Linked DNA regions of Homo sapiens. The protein of the gene in region 1 purifies or fractionates together with the protein of each later gene. This does not show direct contact. Each region holds a gene or a part of one and is shown on either strand. Other genes may lie near its edges.

What was found.
Region 2: the proteins of NEFH (region 1) and TARBP1 purify together in Homo sapiens (affinity purification with mass spectrometry; 2 studies listed by BioGRID and IntAct, with this or other methods). This does not show direct contact.

The regions. Positions count from the first base shown.
Region 1 is NC_000022.11:29,476,124-29,483,217, forward strand, and holds the start of NEFH (neurofilament heavy polypeptide), read left to right. Parts: upstream 1-4,094; 5' UTR 4,095-4,139; coding exon 4,140-5,022; intron 5,023-7,094. UniProt on the Homo sapiens protein: Neurofilaments usually contain three intermediate filament proteins: NEFL, NEFM, and NEFH which are involved in the maintenance of neuronal caliber. NEFH has an important function in mature axons that is not subserved by the two smaller NF proteins.
Region 2 is NC_000001.11:234,467,861-234,477,471, forward strand, and holds part of TARBP1 (tRNA (guanosine(18)-2'-O)-methyltransferase TARBP1), read right to left. Parts: intron 4,952-9,611; coding exon 4,854-4,951; intron 3,398-4,853; coding exon 3,328-3,397; intron 1-3,327.

The DNA.
Region 1 (7,094 bases):
TTCCTAAAAGGAATTGCTGAACATAAAAAGGAACAGGCTGTGCAGGAGCAGGGTGAGTCTGCAGACAACAAAGCCAGCAAGGTTGAGCCTCAGCAAAGGGGACTACACAGCTCGGGCTGGGAGGCTTCAGGCCCCAGGATGGGGGCCACACTTTCAAGACCTCCTTCTCCAGTCAACCTGCGGGCAGCCTCCCTAGGGCCTGGAACTGTCCAGATGCCCAGTGCTAAAATGTCTGGGTGATCACGGGCCTCTCAGGCAGAGCCTCGCAGTCATCCTGAAACTATTTGCTACGCACCCACTATATGCCAGACAATATTCCGAGCACTGGAGATGTCAGCAGTGAATAAAACAAACAAAAATCCCTGTCCTGATGAAGTTCTATTTAGTGGAGAAGATGCATAGTAGCATGTCAGAAAACGTCAAGTCCTATGGAGAAAAAACAAGCAGGAAAAGAGAACGAGGAATTTAGCATCTGCACCTCAAACAGTGGTCACATGTAGCTCCCACAGAGGTGACACAGTGTCAGAGGGTACCCAGGCCGGGAAGTAGGTTCTCACATACAGGCTATGCTGATGTTGGGTCATGGGCCACAGAGACTCACAGATGGGTGATCTGTCAGAGGCCAGACCCCAACCCCAGCCCCAGAAAGCTGCCCATCCCCTCTCTGAAGGCCTCTCAATCCTCTACCCTCAGACCATCTAGGCCTCTACTATGCAAGAGAAACAAGTTTCCACCCTGTGTCCTGTGCCAGCTCAGGTCTGGATGAGTTGAGACACTGGGCTCTGCTGTGTCACTGAGTCAACTCAGGCAACCCACTTCCTCACTCGGGTCTCAGTCTACTTGCCTATAAAATAGGGACAATGATCCCTGCCGAGTGAACAGTGAGTAGCAGCGAGGCTGGTGGCTGTTTAAGCGCCTACTGCTTTATCCTTCACCCTGCAAGTATGTTCCTGAAGAGCACCAGCCTTGGGGTCCACAAAAGCCCAGGGACAGCAGGGGCTGAGACCCAAATCTCAGTGTGCCTTTCAGTGTGAGCCACTGGACCCTTGTCCTGGAGACACTTGGGGACAAGAAGGGCCCAAGAGCAGTTAAGTTTGGGAAACTCAGCACACTCTACTTGCCTCTGGGAGATTCACAATGCTCACTGCCAAGTCCAGGCTTTGGGAAGATAACTCCAAGAACTGCGGGTGGATGGATGGATGGATGGATAGATAGATGAATATATCGTTCTACTCACTTCCAAATGGTAAGAATCACAGGGAGGAAAGTGAAAGCGATTCGAGCCCCAAGGACTCAGGGCAGAACCATTCACAGCCCCTCCAGACCACAAGTTTGGCTGGAAAACAGACGGAACTTATTCATTCATTGATTCATTTACACACCACAGAGTGGTAAGAGCAGCATTAGAGATTAGCACTGGGAACCATGGGAACCACCAGGAGGGGACAATTAACTAAATGTGGGGGTGAAGGCGGCCAGGGATGGCTTTCTGGAGGTGAGCCTGAAGGGTCCTTTGGGGGAACTGACCTCAGGGCTCCAGCCCTCATGCCATTTTCTCCAGCCACAAGAGTCATGCTTGGGGCTTCTTGGACTACATAGGCAGCTTCAATCTGATGGCTGTGGCCCCTTGGCCTCAACAGAATACATCTTGGAGCCCCCTTTTTACCCCAAACCCCCATTCCTCCTTGCTGTCAGCTGCTTGTGAGCCTTCTCACATCCAGAGAATGTATCAGCATTGTGCAGACTGAAAAGACCCAGAGGAACAAGGCTCCAATGGCAAAATTCCAAGTAGAATGACAAATAAATGGGGAGCCATCTGAGAGCAAGGGAGTCCTGCCCAACACCCGCCCCATGCCTTTCTCAGGGACCTCAGACCAGCCACTCACCTCCATCCTCCCAGCACCACCTGCAACCAGCCCCTTGCCCTCTGCAAACTGGAGCACGACTGGATCTTTAGATGGGGGAAAAATGCTTCATCATGTTCTGCTGCTTCATGCAAAACCAGAAACTCCCTCCCCCTCTTCCCTCCTCCCAGCGCACTCTCCTTCCAGTAAAAAGTGGTTAAAGGGACAGCGCCATCAATTTCCCAGCTCTGAGGGTCTGCTTAGAACTAGGGGGCTGGAAGGAGACAGAGGGCAAAGAGAAAGGAACTGGCAGAGGTCTTTCCTGGGGGATATGTCTGTTCTGTCCTGGGGATCCTGGAGCAGGAAAACCCGCGTAAAGTAGGGGTGTAGTGGGTGTTGAGATAACTGCCTGGGGGAGGTTCAGAGTGGAAGTACGAGTCTACAAACTCTCAAGGGCGTCTCAGGGCTCCCAGCATCCCCAGGGGTCCTTTCGCAGGGGTCCCTAAGCAGGAGGGGAACAGCCCAGAAAACACGGAACTGGACCCCCGACAGGAAGTCCAGGGAGGGGTCCCTGGCTCACTATGTGACCCTGCTGGATCACTTGCCTCCCCTCTCGGGTCCCCTCAGCACAGTGTCCCTCCCTTCCTTCCCCTAAAGTAAAAGCAGAGGGTTAATCTCTTTCCCCGCCCCACGCCCAACAAAGAGCAGGCCCTGTCCCCGGTGCTGAAGCGCCAGCCGCAGCACCACCCCCACTCCCACAGCATAAAACATGAGCCAAAACCAATAAAGAGCCAAATGTCACAGCCGTTGCAGGGCCCCCTAAATCCTGGGGACCCCTTCTTCTACCTGACATCCTATTGGGGTGAGGGACTTTGGTACTCAGAAAGCATCTCATCACTTCCCTGTAAGAGAGAAGGGATGCCGACTCAGGCGCCTGCTTGTCTGTTACAGGAGTGGGGGAAGAGAGGACAAGTTGAGGCTGAGAAGATGGGGAGGGGGAGGGAGAAAAGAGGACTTCCTAGTGTTGACAGAACGGCAAGATGTGGGTTCCCCATCCCCAGTTCAGCCAGAGACCCCTCAAAGTGGAACTTCCTGGGGCAGTCGGGGGTCAGGAGTTGGAGCTTGTCTCTGGGGCAAGACCCCTTCGTTGTACAGATGGAAAAACAAGGGTGGGAGGACACAGCTTGTCCAAGGTCATTCGACCAGCAAACTGCCTAGCTGACCCCAGTGTGCAGAAGCTGGCTCGGGTGACACCCATCATTTCCCCCCACCCCACACAGGGGCCAGCTCTCTCAACTTCATGCCCAAGCCCTCCTACGGTACCCCCACTGTAGGTTCTCTGCCCCTCAAACTCAGCCCAGCTTTCTCCTGCCTGTTCAGGGGACCTTCTGCCCGCTTCGCTGAGGGTCCGTCCCCTTTACTGGGGCTGGCAGCAGGGTCTCCCATCTCCTCTCTCGGGGGCCACTGCAGACTTTTTAGAGAACGCCTTGCCTCCCCCCAACCCCACCCATCCGGGGTTCCCTCTCTCCATCCTCTGCAGTGTCTCCCATACCCCCATTCAGGGTAGCCTTGCTATTCTCCCCAACTCCAGGTCCCCCTTCATCTATTCCGGGGCTGGCCGCGGAGTTTCCTGAGCGCTCTCCAAGTGGGTCCTCTAGATGTTAGGAGAACACTGTACCTCCCCCGGTCAGGGGTCTCCTGTCTCCGTTCTATGGAGCGTCCATGCTCCCATTCAGGACTGCCTTGCTCCCTCCTCTGTTCCGGGGCTGGCTGCACAGTCTCTGCACCCCCTATCCTGAAAGCCTCTCTTAACTATTTGGAAAGCCTCGTGTCCTGTCTCATACAGGGATCCCCTCATCCTAATGACTGCAATCTTCCATTGCTCCATCCCGAGGGCATCCTGCCCCTATTCCCATCAGGTTTCTCCTTGTCCTCTCCCTGTTTCAAGTCCCCTTTCTTATTCCGAACACACTCGCAGGCTCTTCCGACGCGCACCCGGGGGTCCTCACTGGCCCACTCCGGGAGTCCTCTGCCCGCTTCCCCGACCTCGAGGGTCTCCTCTGACGCAGCGTCGATTCCCCTTCCCTCCTCGGTCCCCTGCCCCGCCCCTCTCACTGCGGCGGAGCCGGTCGGCCGGGGGGCCGCAGGGGAGGAGGCGGAGAGGGCGGGGCCCTCCTCCCCACCCTCTCACTGCCAAGGGGTTGGACCCGGCCGCGGCGGCTATAAAAGGGCCGGCGCCCTGGTGCTGCCGCAGTGCCTCCCGCCCCGTCCCGGCCTCGCGCACCTGCTCAGGCCATGATGAGCTTCGGCGGCGCGGACGCGCTGCTGGGCGCCCCGTTCGCGCCGCTGCATGGCGGCGGCAGCCTCCACTACGCGCTAGCCCGAAAGGGTGGCGCAGGCGGGACGCGCTCCGCCGCTGGCTCCTCCAGCGGCTTCCACTCGTGGACACGGACGTCCGTGAGCTCCGTGTCCGCCTCGCCCAGCCGCTTCCGTGGCGCAGGCGCCGCCTCAAGCACCGACTCGCTGGACACGCTGAGCAACGGGCCGGAGGGCTGCATGGTGGCGGTGGCCACCTCACGCAGTGAGAAGGAGCAGCTGCAGGCGCTGAACGACCGCTTCGCCGGGTACATCGACAAGGTGCGGCAGCTGGAGGCGCACAACCGCAGCCTGGAGGGCGAGGCTGCGGCGCTGCGGCAGCAGCAGGCGGGCCGCTCCGCTATGGGCGAGCTGTACGAGCGCGAGGTCCGCGAGATGCGCGGCGCGGTGCTGCGCCTGGGCGCGGCGCGCGGTCAGCTACGCCTGGAGCAGGAGCACCTGCTCGAGGACATCGCGCACGTGCGCCAGCGCCTAGACGACGAGGCCCGGCAGCGAGAGGAGGCCGAGGCGGCGGCCCGCGCGCTGGCGCGCTTCGCGCAGGAGGCCGAGGCGGCGCGCGTGGACCTGCAGAAGAAGGCGCAGGCGCTGCAGGAGGAGTGCGGCTACCTGCGGCGCCACCACCAGGAAGAGGTGGGCGAGCTGCTCGGCCAGATCCAGGGCTCCGGCGCCGCGCAGGCGCAGATGCAGGCCGAGACGCGCGACGCCCTGAAGTGCGACGTGACGTCGGCGCTGCGCGAGATTCGCGCGCAGCTTGAAGGCCACGCGGTGCAGAGCACGCTGCAGTCCGAGGAGTGGTTCCGAGGTACGCAGGCGCGCGGGTGGGGGGAGGGGCGCCCCTGCTGACCCCGCAGCGAACTTTTGGGCTGCGTGACCCAAGGGGGCGCTGCCGGACTGCGCGTGGAGTGGCGCGCTGCTCACCTTCCCTCTGCAAAGTGCATGCCCCTAGTTAAATCGCAGTTTTACTCTGGGTCTCTTGTGGGACGCCCCAACTCTGGGTTGTCCTTCGGTTCCCCCTTTCCAGGTTCTTTACGGCTGTACTTCAACTCTGGGCCCCCTGCTGCTCTCTACCCCAAGCTTAGGCGACCCCACTCTGAGATCCCTCCCCCGTCAAGAAAAAAACAAGTTTCCTCTACAGGAAAAAAGTGGTGCAGGATTCTGGTCTGCAAGCGCTGGAGACTCTTAGCCCTTCTAAGTAGCAAGGCTTCCCCGCCAATGCTGCCATGCCCTCTCCTACACCCCGCAAGAAACTCTATTCCTCTCACCCCTACCAGGCTCCTTCCCACTACCTGCTCAGTGCTTAACGTTCCTACCTTAAATCTTCCACGTGGGGGTGGGTCAGGACCTTTTCGCATCCTTTCTTCCTAGAGGGAACCATTACTACAGTCAGTTGTTGCCTGTGGCGGAGGTGGCTGGTGGGCCCTTTCATGTTTTAATGTCCCCTTTCTCCTTTAGGGAAGCTGGGAGCCTCCCAAGTCTGCCCCTCCCCCAACTCCTTGCAGCCCTGAGTCAGCTAGATTGCGCTGCCCTGAGGCTGTGCCCAGCAGCTGCAGGGTGACCTTGACCAACACTTGCCCTCTCTGGTTTTCATTTCTTTTTGAGTTGAAAGAGGAGGGTAGATCAACTGGGCTGCTTAATCCGGGGAGTTCCATGATGTCTCACGAAACTGTCTGTAAAACTTTGCGTTGTTTTTGAGAGAGAGGGCAGAGGCTTCAGTGATTTTCCAAAAGCATCTGTGATCGACAATAGTTGAGAATCTCCAACCACCTGGATGGTTTCTAAGTCTTTGCCAGCACTAGCAGGGAAAGCTGGGATTTTGATGCATAGCTTTTTCTGTTCCTTTTCCACTCCTCTGCAGAGCAGAACCATCCCCTCCTCCATCTCCGCAGCAAGGCCCCTCCCTGCGCAAACCTCTTTTGGGTTTGCCAGTCGTAGGGGCAGACGTCCCAGGATTGTACTGGCCCACTCAGCTGGCTTCCTTCCTCCCCGCCAAGACTTGTGCCCTGAGTGCCACTATCTGGGGATTCAGGATGTTCACTTTTACGAGCTAAAGACCAGTCTCCAGACCTCCACTGCCTCTGGAAGGTTTCCTGGGAACCACGAGCGGGTTGCTGGCGGGGGCCGGGGTGTGGCTACCAATGCTCAGGGGCAATGCTCAGCTAGGTGGAGAAAGGGACAGGGGTTGGCACCCAGGCCACGGGCTCTGCACTGACCTTGGACTGTGCGCAGAAACCTGTAAGGAAGGGACCATGGCTACAAGGTGACCTGATTGCTCACGGTACCCTCATGCCTCCTAAAGGTCACAAGCTCATTAACTTGTTCAGCCACAAACCTGCAGCCTCCAGCTCAGTGTTAAGCCCCATGGGCCAGGTATCACATCTGAACCACCAGCACTGCCAGGCCCTTGCTAGGGAGCTGGACCAGGCATTAGGACCAGGGTTTCCTCTGCCCTGCAGGGTTTTTGGATCCCACACTGGGGGAGACAGAGCATGATCTTTGGGGATTTGAGTCCCAGCTCTGCCACTCACTAGCTGGGTGGCCTTGGGGAGTAGTCACTTGCCTTTATCTCACAGGACAGAGTGAGTCAAGCATACAGGATGGTGTCTGGCACACGCAGTAGGTCAATCCACATGTGTCACCTTCAAAATCTGGGCATTAGGCCGGGCGTGGTGGCTCACACCTGTAATTCCAGCTCTTTGGGAGGCCGAGGTGGGCGAATCATGAGGTCAGGAGTTCAAGACCGCCTGGCGAATGTGGCAAAACCCCATCTCTACTAAAAATACAAAAAATTAGCTGGGCGTAGTGGCAGGTGCCTGTAATCCCAGCTACTCGGGAGGCTGAGGCAGGAGAATCGCTTGAACCCAGGAGGCGGAGCTT
Region 2 (9,611 bases), on another chromosome or scaffold:
TCCAGGGCTCAAGCGATCCTCCTGCCTCAGCTTCCTGAGTAGTTTCCTAGCAGGACTACAGGTATGCAAACCACGCCTAGACAATTTTTAAAATATTTTTTAGAAACATGGTCTCAGAATGTTGCCTAGGTTGGTCTCAAACTCCTGAGTTCAAGTGATCCTCCATCCTCGGCCTGCCAAAGCACTGGGATTACAGGTATGAGCCACCGCACCCAGACTGTTTTTAGTCACATCTGAGTATGTCAACCAAAAAAATTTTGGTATTCAGTATTCCGTATTCAGGCAGCTTAATTTTGAAAGACTGTAAATGGGCCAGGCATGGTGGCTCATGCCTGTAATCCAAGCACTTTGGGAGGCCGAGGCAGATGGATCACATGAGGCCAGGAGTTTGAGACCAGCCTGGCCAACATGGCAAAACTCCATCTCTACTAAAAAACACAGAAATCAGCCAGGCATGGTGGTGTATGCCTGTAATCCCAGCTACTGGTGGGGGAGGGACTGAGACACGAGAATCGCTTGAACCCTTGAACTTGGGAGGCGGAGGTTAGAGTGAGCCCAGGCCCCGCCACTGCACTCCAGCTTGGGCAACAGAGTGAGACTCTGTCTTGAAAAAATAAGAAAGACTGTAAACGAATGCTGTAACTGCTACAGTGTACAAAAATTAAATATTACCCCATGCATGCAGGTTGGAACTTCAGATTTGGAATAGTTTCAACCAATTCTTCTCTTATCCCACTTCAATCCATTTTTCACACAGAAATATGAAATTGTCACGCCTCTGCTTAAAATCCTTCAACATCTCCTCATTGTTCTTAGAATAAAGTCCAAACAAGGCATGAACTGACCTTGACTGCCACTCCAACCTCATCCCCCACTCCACACACCAACTCTGCTGCAGCCCTGCTGGTCCTTCTGTTCTGCCTCCTACAGCTGCTCCCATCTCAGGGCTTGTGTCCCAGGTGGTGCCTTCTCAGCCTGGACTCTTAGCTTAGATGTCATCATAAGACAGGCCTTCCCTGACTACCCCACTCACCCTTGAGTCCATTTCATCAGCCCCTTGTCTGTTCCCCTCATATATCTTACAATCAAAACTATTTTTTCATGGAAAACACAAAAGTCAGGTGAAAAATACCACATCTCTCTCACCATTTTACCCCCAATAATTACTAGGTTGGTGCGAAAGTCGTTGCGGTTTTTGCCTTTTTTTTTTTTTTTTTAAAAAAAAAAAAAAGGCAAAAACCGCAACGACTTTCGCACCAACCTAATAGCATGTACTGGACACTAAGTAAATATTTATTCAGTAAATATATAAATGAGTGAGCAAATCAAAACCATGGAATAAATAAATATCTTAGAGATATTTTTCTAACTCTTTTGAAATATCTTTTACTTCTATTAGAGAAAAATACTCAGCATTTTTAACTCATGACATTCTATAAATAAATTAATCCATTATTTGTAATTTACACCAAGATGCTTGTTCAACTCTTTGGCAATGGTAATTTTTCAAAATCAGTCACTGCTATTTGATTTGGTTTCTCAAGAGCTGTGGGCAAAATGTGGTAATAAGAGCATCATTTTAATGGTAAATGAATAAGTGAAGTCACAACAAGATTCAATTAAATTCTAGCCCCAGGTGCAACTACAGATGCTTATGGTCTGTGAAAAATCCCAGTGTATCAGAAAACAACTACAGCAATCAGCTGAATAAAGCTCAATTCCTAAGGGGTCAAACTATTAAACTGTAATTATCTAGAGTAGGCACTAAAAACCATTTACCTAGGTTAATTCTCATGTGTAAACACAATAATGTGGCATTTTATCATTCATATGAACACAGGCCAAAACACTATTGGGCTGCATTTAGCTATTTCATTAAACTTAATTTTATAAAATACATTTAGGAAGCTCCAGCTTCATTGTGTATCTCCTAAAAAGCTCTCATAATATAGTGATCAAGGGCTTATAAACACATTTGAAATTATATCCCGGAATTTTCTCTTCCTAAGAAGTACAAGATACAGAACAATAACTGAAAACTTAAGAAACACTGGAAAAGATATACTAAGAGAATAAGAATGGAAACCAGTTAAAAAGATATATTCATACCAAAGAGTGATTATTGGCCAGGCACGGTGGCTCACACCTGTAATCCCAGCACTTTGGGAGGCTGAGGCAGGTGGATCACCTGAGGTTAGGAGTTTGAGACCAGCCTGGCCAACGTGGCAAAACCCCGTCTCTACTAAAAATACAAAAATTAGCCAGGTGTGGTGGCGCATGCCTGTAATCTCAGCTGCTTGGGAGGCCGAGGCAAAAAAATTGCCTGAACCCGGGAAGCAGAGGTTGCAGTGAGCCGAGATCATCCCACTGCACTCCAGCCTGGGCAACAGATTGCAAGACTCCACATCTCAAAAACAAAAAAAAAGAGCAATTATTAAAACCACAGACTATGTCATCATTGAAACCCTATCGACGAGTCCTTATCTTTTAAAGAAATGTGCTGAAATATTCACAGATAAAATGATAGGATATCTAGGGATGTGCTTCAAAACCATTTAGCAAGAAGGGAACAGGGAAGGCTACATAGGATACACTAAGCAAGGCTGGCCGTGAGACGATCGTTATTAAAGAGGGTGGTAGGTGCGTCACACACACTCTTCTCATTCTATAAATGTTTGAAATTCTCCATCATCAACGGTTTAAAAAATTAACCTTATCTCTTAATTGTAGAAAATTCTGTGGCTATTTTAAATTGTGTTCTTTTTTTTTTTTTTGAGACGGAGTCTTGCTCTGTCACCAGCCTGGAGTGCAGCAGTGTGATCTTGGCTCACTGCAACCTCCGCCTCCTGGATTCGAGTGATTCTCTTGCCTCAGCCTCTCGAGTAGCTGGGACTACAGGCACACACCACCATGCCTGGCTAATTTTTGTATTTTTAGTAGAGACGGAGTTTCACTATGTTGGCCAGGCTGGTCTTGAACTCCTGACCTCAGGTGATCCGCCCACCTCTGCCTCCCAAAGTGCTGGGATTACAGGCATAAGCCACCACGCCTGGCCCAAAATTGTGCTCTTAAAGACGATTTAAGGATATGAGTAGATGCATATAGTTATTATGCTAAGTGAGATAAACATGAACAACATGATCCAGAAGGTGTGTATCTGGAATGGTAACAACTGTTATCTCTTGGTGGCAGCATTACAAGATGATTATATTTTCTTCTGTACACTTTTATAGTTTTTCAAAATTCTCTACAATGAACAGGAATTAGTTACAAAATCAGGGGAAAACCATAAATGTTATTAAAAAATAAAATAAAAGTAATCGTTACCATTTTCCTCTGACACCGCATATTCAAACAGATTGTTTAGCTTTGGTAAAACTGGCTTTATAACATGTATCTAAAAATAAGAGCAAAAAAATCATATGAAATGAAAATGCATCTTGAAAAATGTCAGGCAATTTTCATCTCTTTATTTCACAGTAGCTCTTCTGTTTCTACAAAACATATGTAGAAAGAGCCTGATTTATCCAGTTTTTCAAACAATAGTATGATTCAGGTATGTAAGACTGAGTATGGCAAAGCTAATGAATATAACCACATTACAGCTACATTAAAGTCTACCATTTATACAGTGATTATCATAAATCATGTCATAGAATCCTCAACTGTCCTGGCAGGCAGGTAGGACTGCCAATACTAAGATATTACAAAGAGAAAAAAGACACTGAAATGTTTTCTCTAGTCACTCAAGTTGTTCATGGCTGCACACGCTTAGAACGGCCAGTTCGGAGTTCCATGTTCTTAATACCACATAGCCAAAGTTGCTGACACGTTTGCTTGAGATTAATTTACATATCCTTCAAAATATGGATAAATTTGGGTTTCTAAATAAATAATGGGGGTTTTATGGATCTACTGATTAAAGAAAACCATAAAAGTTAATTTGAATTTAGAAATGCTTTTTCTTTACTCCTCATCCTTGCATCTATATATATTTAGCACATATAAGTAATTATTTAAGTCCACAAACAAGGTTTGGTGCACATTTGGATTGACACCTCACAATGACTCCACAGATGGCTGGCACCTCTGTGGTCCCCAACTTGCAGAATGGAAACCATGGTTCTCAAAGTGTAGTTCCCAGAACAGCAGCATACATATCACCTGGGAACTTGTAAAAAACTCAAAAGTCCTGGACGGGTGCGGTGGCTCACGCCTGTAATCCCAGCACTTTGGGAGGCCAAGGCGGGTGGATTACTTGAGGTCAGGAGTGCAAGACCAGCCTGGCCAACATGGTGGAACCCCATCTCTACTAAAAATACAAAAATTAGCCAGTGTCGTGGCTGTAGTCCCAGCTACTTGGGAGGCTGAGGCAGGAGAATCACTTGAACCCAGGAGGCGGATGTTGCAGTGAGCTGAGATCGTGCCACTGAACCCCAGCCTGGGCGAGAGAGCAAGACTCTGTCTCCAAAAAAAAAAAAAAAAAAAAAAAAAAAACTCAAAAGTCCCAGGCCCCACCCCGACCTACTGAACCAGAAAGTCTGAGGACAGGGCATGGCAATTTATACTTTATAATAAGCCATTTGGGTGATACTGATACTGATAAACGTTAAAGTTTTAGAATGGCAAGGGAAGATCAAATTTTTGAATAATTTGTCAACTGAAAGTATTCTTTAACTTCCTGAAACAACTTACACTCTAAGTTGCATTTATGCCAGACAACAAAGTATACTTGGATTCTATCATCACCAGCTATATCTGAGTTAGTCTCTTTGTATCGCTTTTAATGAATGTTTTTAAAAAAGAAAAATTGTTATCTACTGTAGGATTTGCTAAAATAGAAAAACACTTACCTGATTTCCTTCTAAAGTCTCCATAATTAAAATATAATTTTCCCAAAACTTTAGAAGCTCATCTTTTTTCCTCTCAGACCACCAAAACAGACTTGGGCCTGATATGGTTTAAAAAAGAAAATTAGTTCTTCCTTTTGCAAATTTCATAAGTTTCTCAATGACAGCAGTTCTTAAAATAATGCCACTATTACCAAATGGATTCTCTAATAATGGAGGTGCCCCTGTATCAGAGCCTGGATAGGGGGCTTGGGAATCTCAGAGGGAGATTTTTTTTTGCACTAAGATTACTGTTTTGGAGTTCTGGGTAAAAATGGCAGATTTGCACATATAAACTCTACTTTCTCTCCCTAAGAATCTCACTATAACAGTAAAGGATTTTTCAAGGGCAAAACCCCAAAAGAATGGAGAACACTGGGGGCAGACAACAGCAATAAAATACAGAATCTGAAAATCAGATGAAAACCAAGTTGACTCAAGTCATGAGAATTTTAAGTTGACAAAGGGAAAGCCAGGAAACAATTTGATTTATGCTGCAAAATCCCCCGGAACCAAAGGAAGTGGCTGCAAAAGTTACTCTGGTAAGTGGAGTGAAAAGTGAGGCTAAACCAAAGAGGATGTGTTCAGTGTTTAAGAAACAGTCACATCCCCAGGCCACTTTCCTATGTCCTGAACAGGAAAAGACTAGAACTGCTTTTCTGGAGAAGGTAAAATAGTGCGTCTCTGAATTGGGAGGCACAGGACACAGCAGACATTAGTCCTACTGACAAAGGGGATTCAGCGAACATGTGTGCACCCTGGGTGCTGCGACTCCTCTCTACCTGCCCCCTCAGGTCCTAGAATGCTGGCCAGGCCCTCACTATGCATCAGACAACTGGAAGATGTTCTCTGCAGAATCTGGCCAGCCCAGGAGGAAAGATCTGAAAATATATCAGAGATTCCTTAATGAAATGGCTTGGCCAAATCACCTTATGGTGAAGTTCAGTCAACAGCACCACTCATGGGCTTAGAGCTTTAAACCCAATTTTGATTTCTTATCCTTAAACATAAATAGGGATCTAAGAATCATCAGACAGTTGGGGAAACCTCTACACTAAAGATCAAGACCAAAACAAATGGAGTGGGAGGAGGAAATTGGAGAAAACAAAATTACACAGGTAGAAGAAAACTTTTAAAAGAGTTTTCAGCAATATCTTAAGAAGATAGTAGTATTATAAGAACAGGATATTATTAAAAAGGGGACATTCTGACCAGGCTTGGTGGCTCATGCCTGTAATCCCAACACTTTGGGAGGCTGAGGCAGGAGGATTGCTTGAGGCCAGGAGCTTGAGACCAGCCTGGTACAACATAGCAAGACCCTGTCTCTACAAGGAAATTTAAAAAATTATCAGGGCATGGTGGTGCACACCTATCGTCCCAGCTTCTCTGGAGGCTGAGATGAGAGGATCACTTGAGCCCAGTATTTTGAAGTTATAGTGAGCTATAATCACGCCACTGCACCCTAGCCTGGGCAAGAGCGAGGATTTGTCTCTAAAACACACACACACACACACACACACACACACACACACACACACAAAGGGGACATTTAAAAAAAAAAACTCAATCCAAAATCATAGAAAATCCTTAGGAGAGAAAAGATGCTTTCAAGAAAGTCCAGGAAGTTCAATATCTAAAAAAAGAACAGAAAACAGAAAGGGACGAAATAATCCACAGAATATTCTAGAAAATTTCCCAGAACTGAAGAACATGATTTCCAGATTGCACAGGAGGTCCAGCAAGTGCCCAGCACAAGGATGAAAATAGACTCCTATCAAAACTGTGAAATTTCAGAATGCTAGAGCCACTGATCCTACACACTTCCATAGAGAGAAACAGTTCCTGTATAAATAAACAGGATTCAGAATGGTTTCAGATTTCTCAACAGCAATACTGGAAGCTCTAGCTTCTGGGACAATAGATAGATACCTTTAAAATTTTGAATGGAAATATCTTCCAGGCTCGAATTCTACCCTCAGTCAAACCATCAATGAAATATGAGGACAAAATAAAGGCATTTAGATATGTATCGTTTCAGTTGCTCATTAGGACATAGAAAACCATAGGAGATCGTTATTGTCATACAAAGAGGAAAGGCTGAAAAATCTACAAAATCCTAAACTGTTGTGCGGTGGGTGGGGGGAGCATCAGAACTGAGGTCACAATGCAACCTGAATTCTAAAAGGAAGGAAGGCGCTCCAAGAATGGAAAGGCCACTTATCTGTTCTACTTCTGGCACAGGAGCAAGACATGGTCACCCAAAAAGCAGTTTTAAAAATGGCATTTTGACAAGTTTTTAAAGACCAAGGTGGGCTAGCCTCACAGCTTGCTGAGGGAGTCCACATCCATTCACCAGCTCTTTTCTTCAAGCCTGCCCCGGTGCTCTCGAGAGAGACTGTGGCCAGGGCAGGAGATCTTCAGAGGCGCAGGCACCCAGGGCAGCAGGACTAACTAGAGAGGCCCAGCCATGCCCTGCAGGAGTACAAGATGGTGATCAACTGCCAAAACGTGCCTGTCCCCCTGGACCCTTCTCCGACAGGAAGCCAAAGCTGTCTGCCCCTCCCACACTCTCACCCTTGTCCCTGCCTTGATACAAGCAAAAGTTGCCTGCCTCTAGGGCAGGGATAGAACCTGCTCCCTTCACTCGGCACTGACACTAGGCGAATGCATCTTATTCTGTGGAAGGGGAAGCAAACCCCCTACTGCCAGATATCCTGCACTGATACAAAGCTGGTCTGCAGGTGCTGGAGGAGGGCAGGACGCTACACCCAAGACCTACCACAGACACTCACGCAGAATGCAGCTGCCACAGGTTAGGGCCAGGAACCTAAACGCACCCCTAAGTTGGAGGCAACGATTATTGCCACTGGAGAGGGAGCACAGACAGCGAAAGAGCAGGAATGCTGACGCTCAGACACATGGGGCCTAAATACAAGGCTGCAGTGGAAGAAATGAAAAGCCCCTGCCTCATCTCTTGCACCAGGGAACAAGCATCAGCAGTCTACCCCTGAGGGAGGGACGAAGCCTTGGCTGAAGACCTCCATCGGTGGCACAGGCCTCCCAGGCTGGAGAAAAACCTTTCGAGACTCCAGGCTTCAGCTAAGCAAGTAGCCACAAAATCTGGGAAAAGTTTGTAAAGTGCACTGAAAACAAATACAGCAACCAACGCCAAACCCAGCTCAACTACAAACTAGACTAACTCAATGCCACAAAGTAACGGTGCCTATCCCAGGCAGAAATATTTACTTCCATCTCTACTGTTATTATAGTAAGACATAAAAAAAAGCGACTCCATAGCCAAACACTACAACAGAAAACAAAGCCAAACTTAGATGGTCCAGGTATCGAACTTGCAGATAACTATAATTGATATGCTAAAGGATCTTGTGGAAAAGGTAAACAATATGCATAAACAGATGAGCAGATGGGGATTTTCAGGAGAGAAACTCCAAAAGCGTCAAATGGAAATGAGAGAAAAACATGATGGCAGACATAAAGGAGCATTTGATGGAATTATCAGACAAACAAGACCTTAAAAAAATCCTATTTCAGGAAACTGCTAGAGAATGCACTGCACTGACACAAGTGAGTAAAGCAAAAAAGAGGAAGATATGAACTACAGGAAATGAGACTCAACAGAACACCCAGGTGAAGGGAATCCCGGGGTAAGCGTGAGGTCTGTGCACCAGGCACAGGGAGAAACCTGCGACATCTGGGCATGTAAGGGGACTCTGGGAGAAACTTCTTCAGGAAAACCTCTGATGATCTGATTTTGTAGAGGAAAGATTTAGTCAACTGGTTAAGAATTTAAGGAGGAATTCGTGGTAAGTATAGAAAGAACCGAACACATTTTAAAACGTCAAAATCATATGAAAAACTTGCAGGAAGAGAAAAATGATCAGTTTCCTACATAGATCACCTGCAAGCAGCATTTACAGTCATAATTTTATAAATGCTGAACACACATTTAACCAAAATTTTAACTGTGACAATATATTTTATGATATAACTAAGATATACTATGTCAAGACATAGGGGTAAATCCCCTAATATTCCGTTAAGAGGCCACAGGATTTGCTTTCTGTAACAGAGGAAATGGGAGTTGCAGGAAGCATGGAAGCACCATTGCTTATCCCTAAAACTGCAAAATAACTGGCCGAGCGCGGTGGCTCACGCCTGTAATCCCAGCGCTTTGGGAGGCCAAGGCGGGCAGATCACCTGAGGTGAGGAGTTTGAGGCCAGCCTGACCAACACGGTGAAACCCCGTCTCTATTAAAAATACAAAATTAGTGGGGCATGGTGGCGCATGCCTGTAATCCCAGCTACTCTGGAGGCTGAGGCAGGAGAACCGCTTGAACCCGGGAAGTGCAGGTTGCGGTGAGCGGAGATTGTGCCATTGCATTCCAGCCTGGGCAACAAGACCGAAACTCCATAAAACAAACAAACAAACAAACAAAACTGCAAAATAACAGACTCATGTAAATAAATGAATGTTTTAATTTTTGATGATTTAAAAAATGTTTTCCAGTGAAAACTCTCAGGGATGATCACACCTATCTGTGGACTGTTCAAATATTTACTCTCTAATGTTTTAAAATTACTTGAAAATATAACCTCATAACTTCAGCCAAACAAAAATCCTTTACCTGTAATAAATGGTCAGCTACCGTTGAAAAAGTAGAAATATTCTATTGAGACAATTTTGAGTCAATCTACTTTGTA